Regions from separate parts of the Homo sapiens genome. Here region 1 is linked to region 2. The links come from fine-mapping of genetic effects on gene expression. A gene starts in region 2. The other region holds a variant in brackets. All regions are shown on one strand. Distances are between the middles of the regions. Region 1 overlaps GANAB (glucosidase II alpha subunit). Region 2 holds the start of CSKMT (citrate synthase lysine methyltransferase).

The links. PIP is the estimated chance that this variant, and not a neighbour inherited with it, causes the effect.
Region 1: its variant is fine-mapped to the expression of CSKMT in whole blood (TOPMed, PIP above 0.99). The same link has a PIP of 0.9 or more in lung.

The regions. Positions count from the first base shown.
Region 1 is chr11:62,626,414-62,634,413 of GRCh38, forward strand. GANAB (glucosidase II alpha subunit) reads right to left here. Exons shown (of 24, transcript NM_198334.3): 6 at 7,032-7,101; 7 at 6,771-6,858; 8 at 6,592-6,688; 9 at 6,152-6,332; 10 at 4,617-4,770; 11 at 4,188-4,423; 12 at 3,966-4,092; 13 at 3,784-3,863; 14 at 3,401-3,544; 15 at 3,175-3,271; 16 at 2,781-2,882; 17 at 2,356-2,599; 18 at 876-940; 19 at 635-711; 3 more. Among named protein-coding and RNA genes, the nearest start is that of B3GAT3, 8.4 kb to the left of the region's middle. The variant C/G (reference allele first, on the strand shown) is at 3,292.
Region 2 is chr11:62,661,396-62,669,468 of GRCh38, forward strand. It overlaps CSKMT (citrate synthase lysine methyltransferase), which reads left to right and starts at 3,917. Exons shown (of 3, transcript NM_001043229.2): 1 at 3,917-3,937; 2 at 4,252-4,551; 3 at 5,001-6,713. The coding sequence starts at 4,485. The coding sequence ends at 5,656. LBHD1 (LBH domain containing 1) reads right to left here. Exons shown (of 7, transcript NM_024099.5): 4 at 6,128-6,352; 5 at 3,454-3,578; 6 at 1,841-1,938; 7 at 1,422-1,764. The coding sequence ends at 1,734. It overlaps C11orf98 (chromosome 11 open reading frame 98), which reads right to left and starts at 3,815. Exons shown (of 4, transcript NM_001286086.2): 1 at 3,736-3,815; 2 at 3,454-3,578; 3 at 1,841-1,938; 4 at 1,422-1,764. The coding sequence starts at 3,774. The coding sequence ends at 1,655. SNORA57 (small nucleolar RNA, H/ACA box 57) reads left to right here and starts at 4,027; the gene lies at 4,027-4,175. RefSeq lists enhancers at 4,035-4,264, 4,935-5,044, 5,095-5,144, 5,165-5,264.

The DNA.
Region 1 (8,000 bases), 35 kb before region 2:
CATCATCCAGAAAGAGCTCTCCTTGAGCTGTACCCTGAGCAAGAAGTGGGATAGGTGAGCGCCTGAGCCCAAGAGGGAGTGAGGGGCACAACCCCAGAGAACTGAGTCCTAGGAAGGCAGGCAAATGGCTGAGGAGACTCGCTGCCTATGCACTTACCTGAGGGCTAAGTGCAACAAAGAGAGTGATGGGGTCATCCTTCATACATTCTGAAGACCGCCGCACTCGCATCCATCGAGGCACGATTGTCCCTCCACGCTGGAACACAGGGATCTAGGGCAAGAGCAATGCCAGGATGAAGTTGCCCCCTTGTCCAACCTTGGGCCCCACAGCATGTTTTGCTTACTCATGTATGCCCACATAGGTACTGGACCCTAAGGCACACATTCCCTCCCCTTCTGGAAATTTACAGGGAGATGGAACCGGCAGCCAGACCAGGCTTACTCACACTGCTTAGAGTTACAGGCAGGTACAGGGTCTGGGGACCATGATGCTTCTGGTAGCTTTGAATGTCATACCACACCTGTGAGTGACAAAAGAGGTAAGATACCGGATCACTCAGTGCACAGGGGTCCCGTCCTGTTTGCCTCCTTTGGCTTCCACCATCTTTCCCCACCATGCCCTTCCTTAACTCACCTCCCCTTGGCCAGGCAGATAGACCTGGACACCATGGGCTCCAGAGTCTGATACAGGGTGAACCAGCAACGCATCCCCTAAAATATGCCAGAATCAACTCTGAATAGGGGGATTAGTTCCCAGAACAGGGAACACCAAAGTGCCTGCCCTCTGCACCACCAGCTTCACTAGTCCCTCCCTGGGCATCCGCAGTGCTGCTTGGCCCAAAGCCAACCCACCACCAACTATCCTCATTTCTCACCAAGCAAGTACTGATCATCTATATTGAAGGTAGTCACATCCTGAGGGTACTGCACCCACAGGGGCCTAGGAAGGAAGAAAGACAATAAAGGAAAACTTTTCAATTTTGGCACAAGTCAGAAATGCTCCTCCAGGAACTGGCAATAAGAAAAGAACAGCATAGGCCGGGTGTGGTGGCTCACACCTGTAATCCCAACACTTTGGGAGGCCGAGGCGGGAAGATCACCTGAGGTCAGGAGTTCGAGATCAGCCTGAACAACATGGTGAAACCCCGTCTCTACTAAAAATACAAAAATTAGCCGGGCATGGTGGCAGGCACCTGTGATCCCAGCTACTCAGGAGGCTGAGGCTGGAGAATCACTTGAACCCGGGAGGCGGAGTGCATTCAGTGAGCCAAGATCACACCATCGCACTCCAGCCTGGGGGACGAGAGTGAGACTTTGTCTCAAAAAAAAAAAGAAAAGAAAAGAACAGCACAGGGGTTAAGACCCAGGAGTTTGCAGTCAGACAGTCGGGTTGGGGTTCAGGTCTCAGTTATACAATCCAGTCTTAGACATTTAACTTCCTAAGCCATCTCCCTGCTTCTTCTCTGCCCTCTACTGAAACCATGCTGCACAGCAGCCTGCCAGTAGCCTCCTTGCATGTTTCACCGCCCTGGCTTACAACCCTGGGTTGCAACCCTGGCTTGCAAGGCCCTCCAGGAGCAGATCACACTTTCTTCTTAATCTCATCTCCTAGCTCTCCTTCTGCTTCTTTACCCAAGACATACTGTTTTTTTCTATTCCTAGTACATAACAAACTAATTTCTCCTTTAGAATTTTTGTACTTGCAATTCCCTCTGCTTGGAAGATTCTTCCTACATAACATGGTCTGTCCCACTCATTCAGGCCTCATCTCACACAGCCTTCTTCTCAAAACTTTTTTTTTTTTTTTTTTTTCATTTTTTTGAGATGGAGTCTCCCTCTGTCACCCAGGCTAGAATGCAGCAGAGCAATCTCGGCTCACTGCAACCTCTACCTCCTGGGTTCAAGTGATTCTCATGCCTCAGCCTCCCGAGTAGCTGGGATTACAGGCGCCATGATGCCCAGCTAATTTTTGTATTTTTAGTAGAGATGGGGTTTTGCCATGTTGGCCAGGCTGGTCTCAAACTCCTGACCTCAGGTGATCTGCCCACCTCGGCCTCCCAAAGTGCTGGGATTACAGGTGTGAGCCACTGTGCCCGGCCTCAAAAAGGGATTTTATGACCACCTAATCCCATTACCCTGTTTTATTTTTCTGAAAGAGCTTATGACTGCTGTCAATTTTCTTTAAATGTTTACTATTATTCATCTCCATTAAGCTCCCCTTCACTCTTGACCTTAATGATTTTCCATCCTTTACAAGGCTGTAGTGAGTGAAGAAAGAGACCCAGAGATGAAGCCCAGTCCCTAATACCCCCAGCCACCTCAGCCCACTCTTCACAGCCCAAGTGAATGCCTCACCTCATGACAGGAATGCCTTCCCGATGGGCCTGATATAAGAGGGTGTACCAGAAGGGCAGCAAAGAATATCGCTGGCCCAAGGCATCTCGGATTATATCATTGTGCTGAGATGGTAACAGCCATGGCTCTCGTCGCCCAGTGTCCAAGTGGGCATGTGCCCGGAAGAATGGCTGGTAAGCACCCATCTGGTACCAGCGCACAAGCAGCTCTGGCTCTGGGTTTTTGAAGAAGCCACCCACATCCGCTGGTAGAGGAGAGAGAGGAAGCAGGTTGGAAAAGAGGGTGAAGGAGAGATACTGCTTGAGAAACTTCCCAAGGCCCTAACTTGGACTCTCAACTCTCTTTGCTTACAACACCTTGGTCCTGTGCCCTCTACTTTGCCCCTTTCCCACCAAACCAAGACCCCAAATTCCTCCCTGTCTTACCCCCACAGAAGGAAAGTCCCACCAGCCCCAAGCTGAGACACATAGGAATAGAGATCTTCAAATGGTCCCACTCGGCAGTGTTGTCCCCTGTCCACACGGCTCCTGAGGAAGACAAGAAGTGGGGAGCTTGCACATGGTAAAGGAGTTCAGCTTTTTACATGGCTGACCTCCCACATCCGCTCTGGGTCCCCAGAACCCTGCTGAAGATGCAGTTCACAAGAACATTTGAACAAGGAGTGGACCTCCCACACCCTGACTTCCTTCAAAGCGCATAGCTGAGAGGAAACAGATGCAGTGTGTGGCTCCCATTCCTCAGAGAGGCAGGTCCAGGTCCATGGCTCCTGAGATCTGGCCTTCACACCCTTCTGCCACAGCTCCATTCTCTAAACCTTACCAAAGCGCTGGGAGCCAGCGAAGAAGGCCCTGGCCAGGACAAAGGGGCGTTCCATGCCCCCAGAGCGCTGTCTCAGCCCATCAGCAGTCGCCATGTGCTGGGTGAGGAGAGAAGAGA[C/G]GGGTAGTGAGGAGCAAAAGCCAGCTGTCATCTGGTGCAAGTTCCCTAGGCCCTCAGTCTCTGGGCTGTTTTCCCTCTTTCCACCAACTCTCCTCTCTCAGGCCCTTACCACATAAAGGCCATAGATGTTATGCACATCCCGGTGCTCCCAGCCCCCATAATGCTGGGCATCCTTGAGCATGGTGACCTCAGGACCATTGAACACAGATGGTTCGTTCATGTCATTCCAGACAAAGAGGTTGGGAGCTGAGCCCTGGGAACGTGGGCAGAAAATGGGGACAGAAGGACAGAGGGGAGGAAGAAGACAAACAGTGTCAGAGAAGAGAGCTCCTAGGAATCTAAAAAGATGCATTTTTCAGGGCCCTCCCCGGATCATCAAGGCCCCCTGATATGTTGCAGGCAATCAACCATAGAAGGGTTGGCAAGCCGAGAGAGATTCAGGGAGGCAGGTGGAACAGACAGACGCAGGTCATGGGGAGAGGCCTTCCCTACCTCATAATTGTCATAGCTGAACATGTTAGCCCACCAGGCCCTCATCGTGGGATTAGTGAAGTCAGGGTAACCAGCTGAGCCTGGGAGAAGTTAAGGGTGGCTCTCAATCCCCTAAGGGGCAAAAGAGCCACCATTCTACCCCGCTGGCCAATCAACTCTCCCTCAATTCTGGGTCTGCTTACCTGGCCAGCACCAGCCCTCATAGTCAGAGCCATCCCGGGTTTTAACATACAGCCCCAGGTTCCGCAGCTCCTCGTGAACTCGGTAGCCGGAGTCCACCTTGATGTGGGGGTCTACGATGGCCACCAGCTGGGGGCAAGGAACAGGGGTGTTCAGGTCTCTTTAAGGCTAAACTATGCTTCAGCCCTACCCTGAGAAGACCAAGCGTGACTGCAACCCCTTACCTTCCGCCTCTTAGAAGCCAAGCGCTCAAGCATGGTGCGGGGCTGAGGGAAGCGACTGGGGTCCCAGGTGAAATACCGCTTGCCATCAGCATGTTCAATGTCTAGCCAGATGACATCACAGGGCAGGTTGTGATCATCAAAGCCCTGATCCACTTCCAGCACATCAGCCTCGTCCCGGTAGTTCCAACGGCTCTGGTGGTAGCCGAGGGAGAAGAGTGGGGGCAACGCCTGGGTTCCTGCAGGTTCATGAGGGATGGGGGTCACAACGAGGATCAGGCCCAACACCCAGAAACTGAGGGAGGCTTGTGAACTAGAGGCAGGCTGAGGGGTATAAACCTAGAAAACAAGCTGGGGCACAGGATCTCTGAAAACACATAGAATCACCCGACAAGAAAAGAGCAGAAGAATGAGGCAGGGAAAACCATGTACCTGTGAGACTAGCATATTGCCGGAAAACATCAGAGATGGAGGGCCCCAGCAGCAGGAAGACGTCAATGATGCCAGTCTCTGACATCCAGCGAACATCTGTCTGTGGGGTCTCCCCAGAGCCCTGCAGGTAGTCCATCATCTTCCCAAACAGGGTCTGTATAGGTGACCACAAAGGGGTCAGACACCTCCTGCCCTCCCATTTTCCAACCCCAAGACAAAAAGTAGCAATTTTCTCCCAGAGTCCACACAGAGCTGGCTCATGTAAGCTGCTTTCGGTAAGACTAAACGGGGCCTCTTCAGTGAGGCTTTCCTAGACCACACTATCTAAAGCAGTACAGCCCCCACCCCTACCCCACCAGTTTGGGGTGGTTAAGTGCTAACAAAGACTCTCTTTCATGTCTTTGTTAGCACTTAATCACCCCAAACTCATCTTGCATTCTTTTTTTTTTTTTTAGACAGAGTCTCACTCTTTTGCCAGGCTGGAGTGCAATGGTGTGATCTTAGCTCACTGCAATCTCCACCTCCCCAGTTCAACCAGTTCTCCTGCCTCAGCCTCCCGAGTAGCTAAGACTACAGGCGCACACCACCACACCCAGCTAACTTTTGTATTTTCAGTAGAAACAGGGTTTCACAATGTTGGCCAGGATGGTCTCGATCTCTTGACCTTGTGATCTGTCCACCTCGCCCTCCCAAAGTGCTGGGATTAGAGGTGGGAGCCACTGCACCCGGCATCATCTTGCTTATTATTTTTATTTTTCAAACGTTTTTATAGAGATGGGGTCTCGCCATGTTGCCCAGGCTGGTCTCGAACTCCTGGCCTCAAGCGATCCTCTTGCCTCAGCCTCCCCAAGTGCTGGGATTACAGACATGAGCTATCATGCCCGGCCCCATCTTGCCTCCTTTGTTATGTGTTTAACGTGTCTTCCTCCCTGTGAGTCAGAACCTTTCTTTTTTTTTTTTCTGAAACAGAGTCTCACTCTGTCACCCAGGCTGGAGTGCAGTGGTGAAATCTCCGCTCACTGCAACCTCCACCAACCAGATTCATGCAATTAACCTGCCTTAGCCTCCCGAATAGCTGGGATTACAGGAGTCCGCCGCCACACCCTGCTAATTTTTGTTTTTCTAGTAGAGATGAGGTTTCGCCATGTTGGCCAGGCTGGTCTCCAACTTCTGACCTCAGGTGATCCGCCCACCTCAGCCTCCCAAAGTGCTGGGATTACAGGCATGAGCCACCACACCCAGCCCAGAACCTTTTCAACCTCAGTTAACACTATATCCCCAGCACCCAGAAGAGTACCTAGCACGTAACACACTGATAATAAGTGCATTCCGTCAGCCCAGAATAGGCAATGCCTTCCCTAAGAATGTGAGTGAGCGTGTCACCTGGGAGTGATTAGGGAACTCAAATGCTGCCCACCAGGCCCACAGCCCCTTCTTAAACCCAGTCCCCAAATAGCTAATGCCCCTAGTATACCTATTTGCCTCAAGGCCTGGAAGCTTCACTCCCTCCTTTTTCCCCGTGCCTGTGCTCTCACCTTCCCGGCAGTGTTGGAAGATATATCAACCCAGGTCTCTGCAGCATTGAGCCAGAAGATGCCCAAGTCGCGATGAGGGTTGTGTGCCAGGAGCACAGGCACAGACCCATACAAGGCCATTGGGTTGTACAGCTCATACTGGAACACATCCAAATTGTAGAGGCGATATGGCTCCCCACCCCTGCAGGCAAACAGACAGACTTGGGCTGCTAACTGGCCCCAGGCTGCGTTATATGCTAACACCACTCCACAGACACAGGTGAGAGATAAGCAAAGGCTCCTCTTGTCCTTTCTCAAAAAATTTTCTATCACCAAAGGTGATTCTGGACACAAGAAATGACCCATGCTTGCCTAGAGTATCCAATATGCACACCCATCTCCCTAAAGGCCTGACTCCTTCCTGCCCACCTCCATCTTCCTGATGTCACCATAGGACTCACTCAGTGACCTTCAGCCTCAGGTTGTCTGCATGCTCAGGGATCCCATAGACATGCTCCATGCCTGGCAGAGAGAAGTCCAAACCCACAGACATGGGGCCTGGAAGAAAAACAAACAAGCTTCAGAGCTTCTGCTTGGAAAGGAGCCCTGCACCCCAGCCCAAGGAACCCGAGCCCCTCACCATACGGCTTGCTGTCAGAGTGAGTTTTGAATGTCTCCTCCCAGGCTCCTGGCTCATCTTTCTCTGCCTTCCCCTGAGTCTCCTCTGGCTGTTAAGAAGAAAAGAGGACCACTCTCCAATCATACCAGTTCTCTCTTTCCCCGCTCCCATCAACTAAATCCCATCCCTGATGGGGAGACTAAGTTCAAGTTTCTCATGGGCCTCTCCCCTCCACCCTCCCAGCCAGCCCTATCCTCCAACCACCCACCCGCTCCAACTTGCCTTGTCGCCATCCCTGGGTGTTTCCTCAGGCTGGGCCCCATCGCCCTCAGCTGGGTCTTTTGATCCTTGCCTGGAAGGTAGGAGAGCTGTCTGCTCCAATCCAGAGGGGGCAGGGACGAGGGGCTAGTGGAAGGAGGGGTTGGGGAATAGAGAGCCAAGGGTCCAAAGGAACGAAGGCATTGGAGGAAGGGACTAAATGTTAAAGCTTGGAGAGGGAACCCACAATGAGCAGATAAGTTTGCAAAGGATGGGGAGAGAAATGAGAAAGGAAAATGAGGAATAAGTGCCACCAGGAGGCACAGGCCTGAACACCAGCCTCTGTCAACATCCCAGAAGAGAAAGGCAGAATGATTCAGGGGCCTGGGTTATGAATGCCAATCCTGGCTCTGTTGCCTCTACTGAGAGATTCTGGCCCCAAGTGCTCTCCCTGGGCCTCAGCCTCCTGGCCTGACACAATGGCTTTGCAAAGGCATGTGGGTCATACTATACCAAGCCTCTACAGACATACATAGGGACTTCAAGAGATTCTGCCAAAAAATGCTTTCAAGGGCAAGTAGCTCTGCCCAGAACCTCAGGTGCCCCTCAGCTGAGAGTCAGGAACCCCAGCAATAGGCAGCATCTCTCCATCCCCTGGCAAAGCAATAAGCTCCCTACATTCCCGAAGGACCTGACTTTCAGTATCTCACCTTCCTTCTTCTGGGGGCTCCCAGCCAGGGTAACAGGTAACAGGACCAGACATCACACAGCAGGGGAAAGTGGGGTGAGTGAAAGGCTGGAAGGGTCTGGGGCACCTCCCCCCAAAGGCTAGAGTGAGGAATGGGTAAGGGCAGAGGAACAGATACAGTACCGGTGGCCATGGATTTACCTAGAGAAAAGGTTCTTGATCTTATCCCATATGCTACCAAGCGTGAGATTAACCTTATCCGAGAAACTGGGGCAGGAGGAGATGGGTAGGGAAGGGGAAAAAGA
Region 2 (8,073 bases):
AAAATAAAAATACATATTAGGTATTTAATCAATGTTAAATGTCTTAGCTGTGATTACAGTATTTTGGCTACATAGAAGGATGTCCTTAGGAGTAAGGTTTCATGTTGTCTATATTTGACTTTCAAAGGATTTCATTCAATAAGGACAAGAAAAATGCAGATACAGAAGTGTAGCACAATGTTAATAACTGGTAAATCTAAGTAGAGGGCATATACCAGGGCTCATTTTACTAATCTCTTCTCTTTACTGAAAGTTTTTTTTTTATTATTATTACACCAGTAATCCCAGCACTTTGGGAGGTTAAGGTGGATGGATCGCTTGAGTCCAGGGGTTTGAGACCAGCCTGGGTAAAACTCCATTTCTACAGAAAATTTTTTAAAATTAGTCAGGGGTGGCCGGGCACGGTGGCTCACACCTGTAGTCCCAGCACTTTGGGAGGCCGACGTGGGAAGATCACAGGGTCAGGAGTTCAAGATCAGCCTGGCCAACATACTGAAACCCTGTCTCTACTAAAAAATACAAAAAATAAGCCAGGCCTGGTGGCAGGCGCCTGTAATCCCAGCTACTCAGGAGGCTGAGGCAGGAGAATTGCTTGAACCCGGGAGGCAGAGGGTGCAGTGAGCCAAGATTATGCCATTGCACTCCAGCCGGGGCTACAGTGTGAGACTCTGTCTCAAAAAAAAAAAAATTAAAATAAAATAAATAAATAAATATATATATATATAAATTAAAATGAAAATATAATGCAGCAAAAGAAGTAAGACAGAAGAGGTAAGGTGTCTTGCCTACCTTAGTCACACAGAGGCAGTGGCAGAACTGGTATCAGGACCTTTACCTCTGCTATCCCTACAATTATCTATCTATATTTTTCGAGACAATGGCTCACTCTGTTGCCCAGGCTGGAGTGCAGTGGGACAATCTTGGCTCACTGTAACTTCAACTTCTCGAATAATCTGTATCTTTGTCATAAATGGAAAGTTAGAGTATCACTCACTAAGGAGACAGATGAGATCACAGCACACTACAGCCTTGAGTTCCTGGCCTCAAGCAATACCCCGGTAGGCAATCTCCGCCTCCCGGGTTCAAGCGATTCTCCTGCCTCAGCCTCCAAGTAGCTGGGATTACAGGCGTGCACCACCACGCCCGGCTAATTTTTTGTATTTTTAGTAGAAACGGGGTTAGCCAGGCTGGTCTCGAACTTGTGACCTCAGGTGATCCACCTGCCTCGGCCTCCCAAAGTGCTGGCATTAGAGGCGTGAGCCACTGCACCCGGCCAGGCACCACCACTCTTGAGGGCAGAGGCTGGCATCTTGTTGCATTTGCACAAGGAAGCTGTGGGTACTGCTTCCTCACTGTCTTGTTTCCATACTCCCCAATCTTTTCATGACCCATCCCCATTCCTACATTTAATCACACACATCTCAGAGTGCTAGGGCTTTATTACAAATGGAGTTGACTGCTAGAGAGGCCCTTCTCCAATCTTTCTTCTGTACCTTCTTCCCTCCCAAAGACATCCCTCTAGGGGAGGTCAGTAGGCCATTAGGTAGGAGGAAATCTGGAGAGTGAAAAGGGGCCTTGCTTTTGTCAAAGTCCTCTGAAACAACCACTGAGTCTGAAGGCTGGCTCCAGTTGAGAATCTTCTAGTGGAAGAGGTTTAGCTCTCATCTTCAAGGTCCTTCATTTCTACATCCTGGGGGGCTTTTGTCTTCTTTTGCCTTTTGAGCTGTGGTTCACTAGTCCTGGCTGGCTTTGAAGGGGCTTCCACTGAGTAAAGGGAAGAAGGAAGTATTATCCCAAATAAATCCAGGATTCCCCTCACCCACCTCTGTCCCAGCCTCACCTTCCATGGCTGTCTTCTCTTTCTGGGCAAGCCGGATCTGCTGGAGGAGTTTTCTGCGCTTCTTCCCTGACAGTGTAATGTTGGCACGTGCACTGGACCTGATGGGTAAGTGGAAATAAAGAGAGCTAGGTTAACCTGAACCAACTGAGGTCACACAAATAGTTCTGGCTATAGAAAAAGTATTAAATAGGCTGGGCGCAGTGGCTCACGCCTGTAATCCCAGCACTTTGGGAGGCCGAGGCGGCTGGATCACGAGGTCAGGAGATCGAGACCACGGTGAAACCCTGTCTCTACTAAAAATACAAAACATTAGCTGGGCGCAGTGGCGGGCGCCTGTAGTCCCAGCTACTCGGGAGGCTGCGGCAGGAGAATGGCGTGAACCCAGAAGGCGGAGCTTGCAGTGAGCCGAGATCGCGCCACTGCACTCCAGCCTGGGCGACAAAGCGAGACTCCGTCTCAAAAAAAAAAAAAAAAGGAAAAGTATTAAATAAATATAATATAAATAGTAATAGAAACCCTAAATATTTACATTGAAGAAGCTAATGAAAGGACATAGATCGGGGGCGGTGGCTTATGCCTGTAATCCCAACACTTTGGGAGGCTGAGGTGGGCGGATCACCTGAGGTCAGGAGTTCAAGACCAGCCTGGCCAACATGGTGAAACCCCGTCTCTACTAAAAATACAAAAATTAGCCGGGTGCAGTGGGGAGCACCTGTAATCCCAGCTACTCGGGAGGCTGAGGCAAGAGAATAGCTTAAACCCAGGAGGCAGGGGTTGCAGTGAGCCGAGATCATGCCACTTCACTCCAGCCTGGGCAACAGAGGGAGACTCTGTCTCAAAAAAGAGGAAAAAAAAAAAAAAAAAAAAAAAGGACACAGAAAGTAATTAATGGGATGGGAACTCTTCCTCAAGACACAGGAGGCCTTGAAACTTACAAGTGAAATCCTATGAGTGCCTTTGGGAAAATTCTTCGAGTTTTATGCGCCTATGTGTGCACTTTTCTGTATGTAAAAATAAGTTTACTTATAAAAATCTGTGTGAATGTATAACATTACTTGGAGAATGGAGAGCCAACAGATTTCCTGATATTCTTTTTTTTTTTTTTTTTTTTTTGAGACGGAGTCTCACTCTGTGGCCCAGGCTGGAGTGCAGTGGCGTGATCTCGGCTCACTGCAACCTCCGCCTCCCAGGTTCAAGCAATTCTCCTGCCTCAGCCTCCCGTGTAGCTGGGACTACAGGTGCCGGCCACAACGCCTGGCTAATTTTTGTATTTTTAGCAAAAACGGGGTTTCACCATGTTGGTCAGGCTGGTCTCGAACTCCCGACCTCAGGTGATCCGCCCACCTCAGCCCCCCAAAGTGCTGGGATTACAGGTATGAGCCACCATCCCCGGCTTTCCTGAGATTCTTAACAGAATCCAAAACCCAAAGAAAGGTTGTCTGCTACAGGTATTGTGAGAGGCTATCAGAGCTTAGGAACTAACAGCCGACAGACATTCCCCGCATAAGCGTCAGTGCACAAGGTGAGCTGAGAGGTGAAGCTGCTCCGGAGCTCTGCAGGGAGGAAGGAAGACTCGGTGGGGACGACCAACAGGAAGAGGGTCTAGTACTTACGCCCGCTTCTTGAGGTGGTGCCGCGTGATCAGCCCTTGGTCTATCACAGCCCCGACCACCCGGTGCCTCAGACGCCGCTCCCGATTCAACACCCGCCGGCGTTTGAACAGCTTCTTCTTCAGCTCCTGCCGGGGAGAAAGATGCGAATCAGATGGAGTGGGCTCGCCGCGACCCGGGGCCCCTCCACCAGGCAGCCCCGGCCCCTCACTGATCCCATCTCGTGCGAGATAAAAGGGCTCAGGAACGCTTGAGGAAACAAAGTCGCGGCCCCCACACAGTCACCGTTCGGGGCCGGTTGATCTTTCCCCCCGGAGCTCCCATAGTCGCGATTCCACTCCAGTTCACGGTCCGTACTTCCGCTCAGCGCCGGATCCGCGGGGCTCCGCCCCGGCCTTCCGCGGGCCAATCGCAACTCGGGGGCGGGTCCTCGGGCTATATAAAGGAGCTCCGCGGTGCGGGAGGCCTTTCGGAGGGTGGTGAGCTAGTAAGTGTGGTTTTAGCTGTAGTAGCCAGATTGGGCGGCCGGGAGTGGTGGGGGTGCCGGGTGGAAGGCTCTGGGCGGGGTCTCAGGACCCTCCTTTTCTTGGCGGGGATCGGGCTTGTGGTGCCGCTCCCCGTAATGTACGGAGGAAGAGGGAAAGGGCTCTGGCCCCCTCGGCGTCATGTCTTCGGTGCTGGCGGCTTCCCATCCGCTGGTTCTATCCTCAAACGCCGGGACACCGGGAATCTCGGAGAAGGACAACCGAGATCCAGCTGGCTCCTCCATCGGGGTGCTCACACTTTCTCATTTGATTTCAGGTCTGCGGACGCTGTATACCCTCCTCCACTTCCCGCTGCAGCCAATAAAGGCCGTTCCTACCATAGTCTGTGTCCGCGTTCTTTTTTCCGGGACTGCAGAGTTCGGGGAAGCTGTACGCCGCCTTTCGCTACGCGGAATTTGCAGATCTTCCCCTGGACCTCAGGCCTCTCCGGCTGGAGTAGGGTGGACGCTTCACATAAGCTTCTCTGGTCGAACTTACCCGAATCTCCAGATGGCCGCGCTGCGTCGAATGCTCCACTTGCCGAGCCTGATGATGGGGACGTGCCGCCCCTTTGCGGGTAGGGAGGTGGGGGCAGAGTGGAGAGGGCAAGGTGGGGGCAGAGTGGGGAGGGTAAGGTGGGTTCCTCGTGAGTCAGGAGTGTAGTCCCTGAAATTGTGATTCTCAAACCCTACGGTGGGCCGTGCGTGGTGGCTCACGGCTGTAATGCTAACACTTTGCCAGGCCGAGGCGGGCAGATCGCTTGGCCCAGGAGTTCGAGACCAACCTAGGGCAACATAGCGAGACCCTGTCTACAAAAAAAATTAACCGGGCACGATGGCGCCTATAGTCCTAGCTACTCAGGAGGCTGAGGTGGAGGCTTCAGTGAGCCATCATTGTGCTACTGTACTCAACCCTGGGTCACAGAGTGAGACCCTGTCTCAAAAAAAAAAAAGACGCCAGTGTGTATATACGACGTTTTTGCAGTGGCGACATAGACCAAGTGACACCCTCCAACCGTGCCCACAGGCTCACTGGCTGATAGTTGCCTGGCGGACCGCTGTCTCTGGGATCGGCTGCATGCCCAGCCTCGTTTGGGCACTGTCCCCACCTTCGACTGGTTCTTTGGATACGACGAAGTCCAGGGGCTCCTACTGCCATTGCTGCAGGAGGCACAGGCTGCCAGTCCTCTGCGAGTGCTGGATGTGGGCTGTGGGACTTCCAGCCTATGTACAGGCCTCTACACCAAATCTCCACACCCAGTGGATGTGCTGGGGGTGGACTTTTCTCCTGTGGCTGTGGCCCACATGAATAGCCTCCTGGAGGGTGGCCCAGGCCAAACACCTCTATGCCCTGGACACCCTGCCTCAAGCCTCCACTTCATGCACGCCGATGCTCAGAACCTGGGGGCTGTGGCTTCTTCAGGCTCTTTCCAACTACTGCTGGACAAAGGCACATGGGATGCTGTTGCCCGGGGAGGTCTGCCTAGGGCTTACCAGCTTCTATCAGAATGCTTGAGGGTTCTAAACCCTCAGGGGACCCTGATTCAGTTCTCAGATGAGGACCCTGATGTGCGACTGCCCTGCCTGGAACAAGGGTCCTATGGCTGGACTGTGACTGTGCAGGAGCTAGGCCCGTTCAGGGGCATCACCTACTTTGCTTACTTGATTCAAGGCTCTCATTAAAGACATTTTAGTAGTCCTGACCCTAGTATTTCTGTGGGCAAGGAGAGGGCTGAAGAACTGTCTTTGCAAGCTATCTGGCTGCAAAGTGAGAATTTGAGTCCTGGCTTCCACATTTACTAGCTGGGTGCCATATTGCTGAATGTTTCTGTTCCCCAGTTTACTCATCTGCAGAGTGAGAATAACTTGGAGTTACGGAGATTACATACAATGATGTGCGCAATATTTAGCACAAAATGAATGCTGAAAAGAGAAGGTACAATTGGGTCATTCCCCAGTTTCAACTAACTGGAGCTCCTAAAAGCAGCAGACAGGAACTGAATCAAAACCCCTGCGCTGACTGACTTGTATAATCTAGTGGCCTAACCTGTAAGCCTCATTTTTGTCACCTGTAAAAGGAGATTGTAAGAGGATGGGTATAAGGAGCTTCATAAACCTGGATGAGATATTTGAGGGGGAGGGAACAATACTTACCCTCAAAGCTATTAGGAGGCAGGAGATGGGAATATTCCACAAAGCCACTTCTACAAACACGGGAGCCTGTTGAGTCCCAGAAGGGACAGTGGTTGGTGGCTTCCAGACATGCTGTGTCCTCAAGAATCCAACAAGCATCTTCTTCATCCTGGTCCTGCCCCCAGCTGAGTCCAGCGTTAAATGTTCTTAAAGGACTTCTAGGGTCCTGTGGGCTCCAAGCCCAGCCTGGGATGGAGGAAGAGAGGGGACAAAAATATTACTGATATATTATCAAATTACAAAACTAGGCCAGGCATGCTGGCTCATACCTATAATCACAGCACTTTGGGAGGCCAAGGTGGGCAGATTGCTTGAGCCCTGGCAATAAAGTGACACCCCTAACTCTACAAAAACAAATGAGCCCGGGATAGTGGCACAGGCATGTAGTTCCAACTACTCAGGAGGCTGAGCTGGGAGGACTGCTTGAACCCTGGGAGGTCAAAGCTGCAATGGGCCATGATAAGCTGCTGCACTTGAGCTAAAAATTAATTTCTGTGGTATTTTTTGCTTATAAAAAAATAGAGCAATTATATCACTAAGAGCCTAACCTCGCAGCCTCAATTTTCTCATTTATAAAGGGGAAGTACCTTCATTGGGTTGTTCTGAAAATCATGAAGTAAAAGTGTTTAGCATAGTACCTGGTACATAGTAAATGCTCAAAAGAATGTAGCTTCTTGGGAGGCTGAGGCGGGCAGATTGCCTGAGCTCAGGAGTTTGAGACCAGCCTGGGCAATATGGTGAAACCCCATCTCTACTAAAATACAAAAAAAATTAGTCGGGCGTGGTGGCCTGAACCTGTAGCCCCAGCTACTCAGGAGGCTGAGGCAGGAGACTTGCTTGGACCTGGGAGGCAGAGGTTGCAGTAAGCCGAGATCCTGCCACTGCACTCCGCCTGGGCAACAGAGGGTGACTCTGTCTCAAAAAAAAAAAAAAAAAAAAAAGTAGCTTCTGTAACAGTACACAGACGGGGCCGGGCGCGGTGGCTCACGCCTGTAATCCCAGCACTTTGAGAGGCCCAGGCAGGCGGATCACAAGGTAAGGAGATCCTGGCGAACAAAGTGAAACCCTGTCTCTACTAAAAATACAAAAAAATTAGCTGGGCGTGGTGGCGGGTGCCTGTAGTCCCAGCTACTCGGGAGGCTGAGGCAGGAGAATGGCACGAACCCAGGAGGCAGGGCTTGCAGTGAGCAGAGGTCATTGCCACTGCACTCCAGCCTGGGGGACAGAGCAAGACTCTGTCTCAAAAAAAAAAACCAAAACCAAAACAAACAAACAAAAAAACAGTACACAGAGATGAAAAAAGTCTAGAAGAGAAGGTATCGAATATGTAAACTATTTTTAGGTAGTTGGTCTTGGGGTAATTTTTTTTGTTTTTTGTTTTTTTTGAGGCAGAATCTGGCTCTTGCCCAGGCTGGAGTGCAGTGGTGGGATCTCAGCTTACTGCAAACTCCACATCCCGGGTTCACGCCATTCTCCTGCCTCCCGAGTAGCTGGGACTACAGGCGCCCGCCACCACGCCCGGCTAATTTTTTGTATTTTTAGTAGAGACGGGGTTTCACCATGTTAGCCAGGATGGTCTCGATCTCCTGACCTTGTGATCTGCCCGCCTCAGCCTCCCAAAGTGCTGGGATTACAGGCGTGAGCCACCGCGGCCAGCCTTAATCTGTACTTTCAAAATGTTTACATTGCTGCAGGAAAAGATAAAATTACCCCAAGACTGGCCGGCTTGGGAGGCTGAGGCAGGAGAATGGCGTGAACCCAGGAGGCGGAGCTTGCAGTGAGCTGAGATCGCGCCACTGCACTCCAGTCTGGGTGACAGAGCGAGACTCAGTCTCAAAAAAAAAAAAAAGAAGAAAAAGAAAGTACAGATTAAAGGATGGCACCCATTCTGATACCAAAACTGCTCT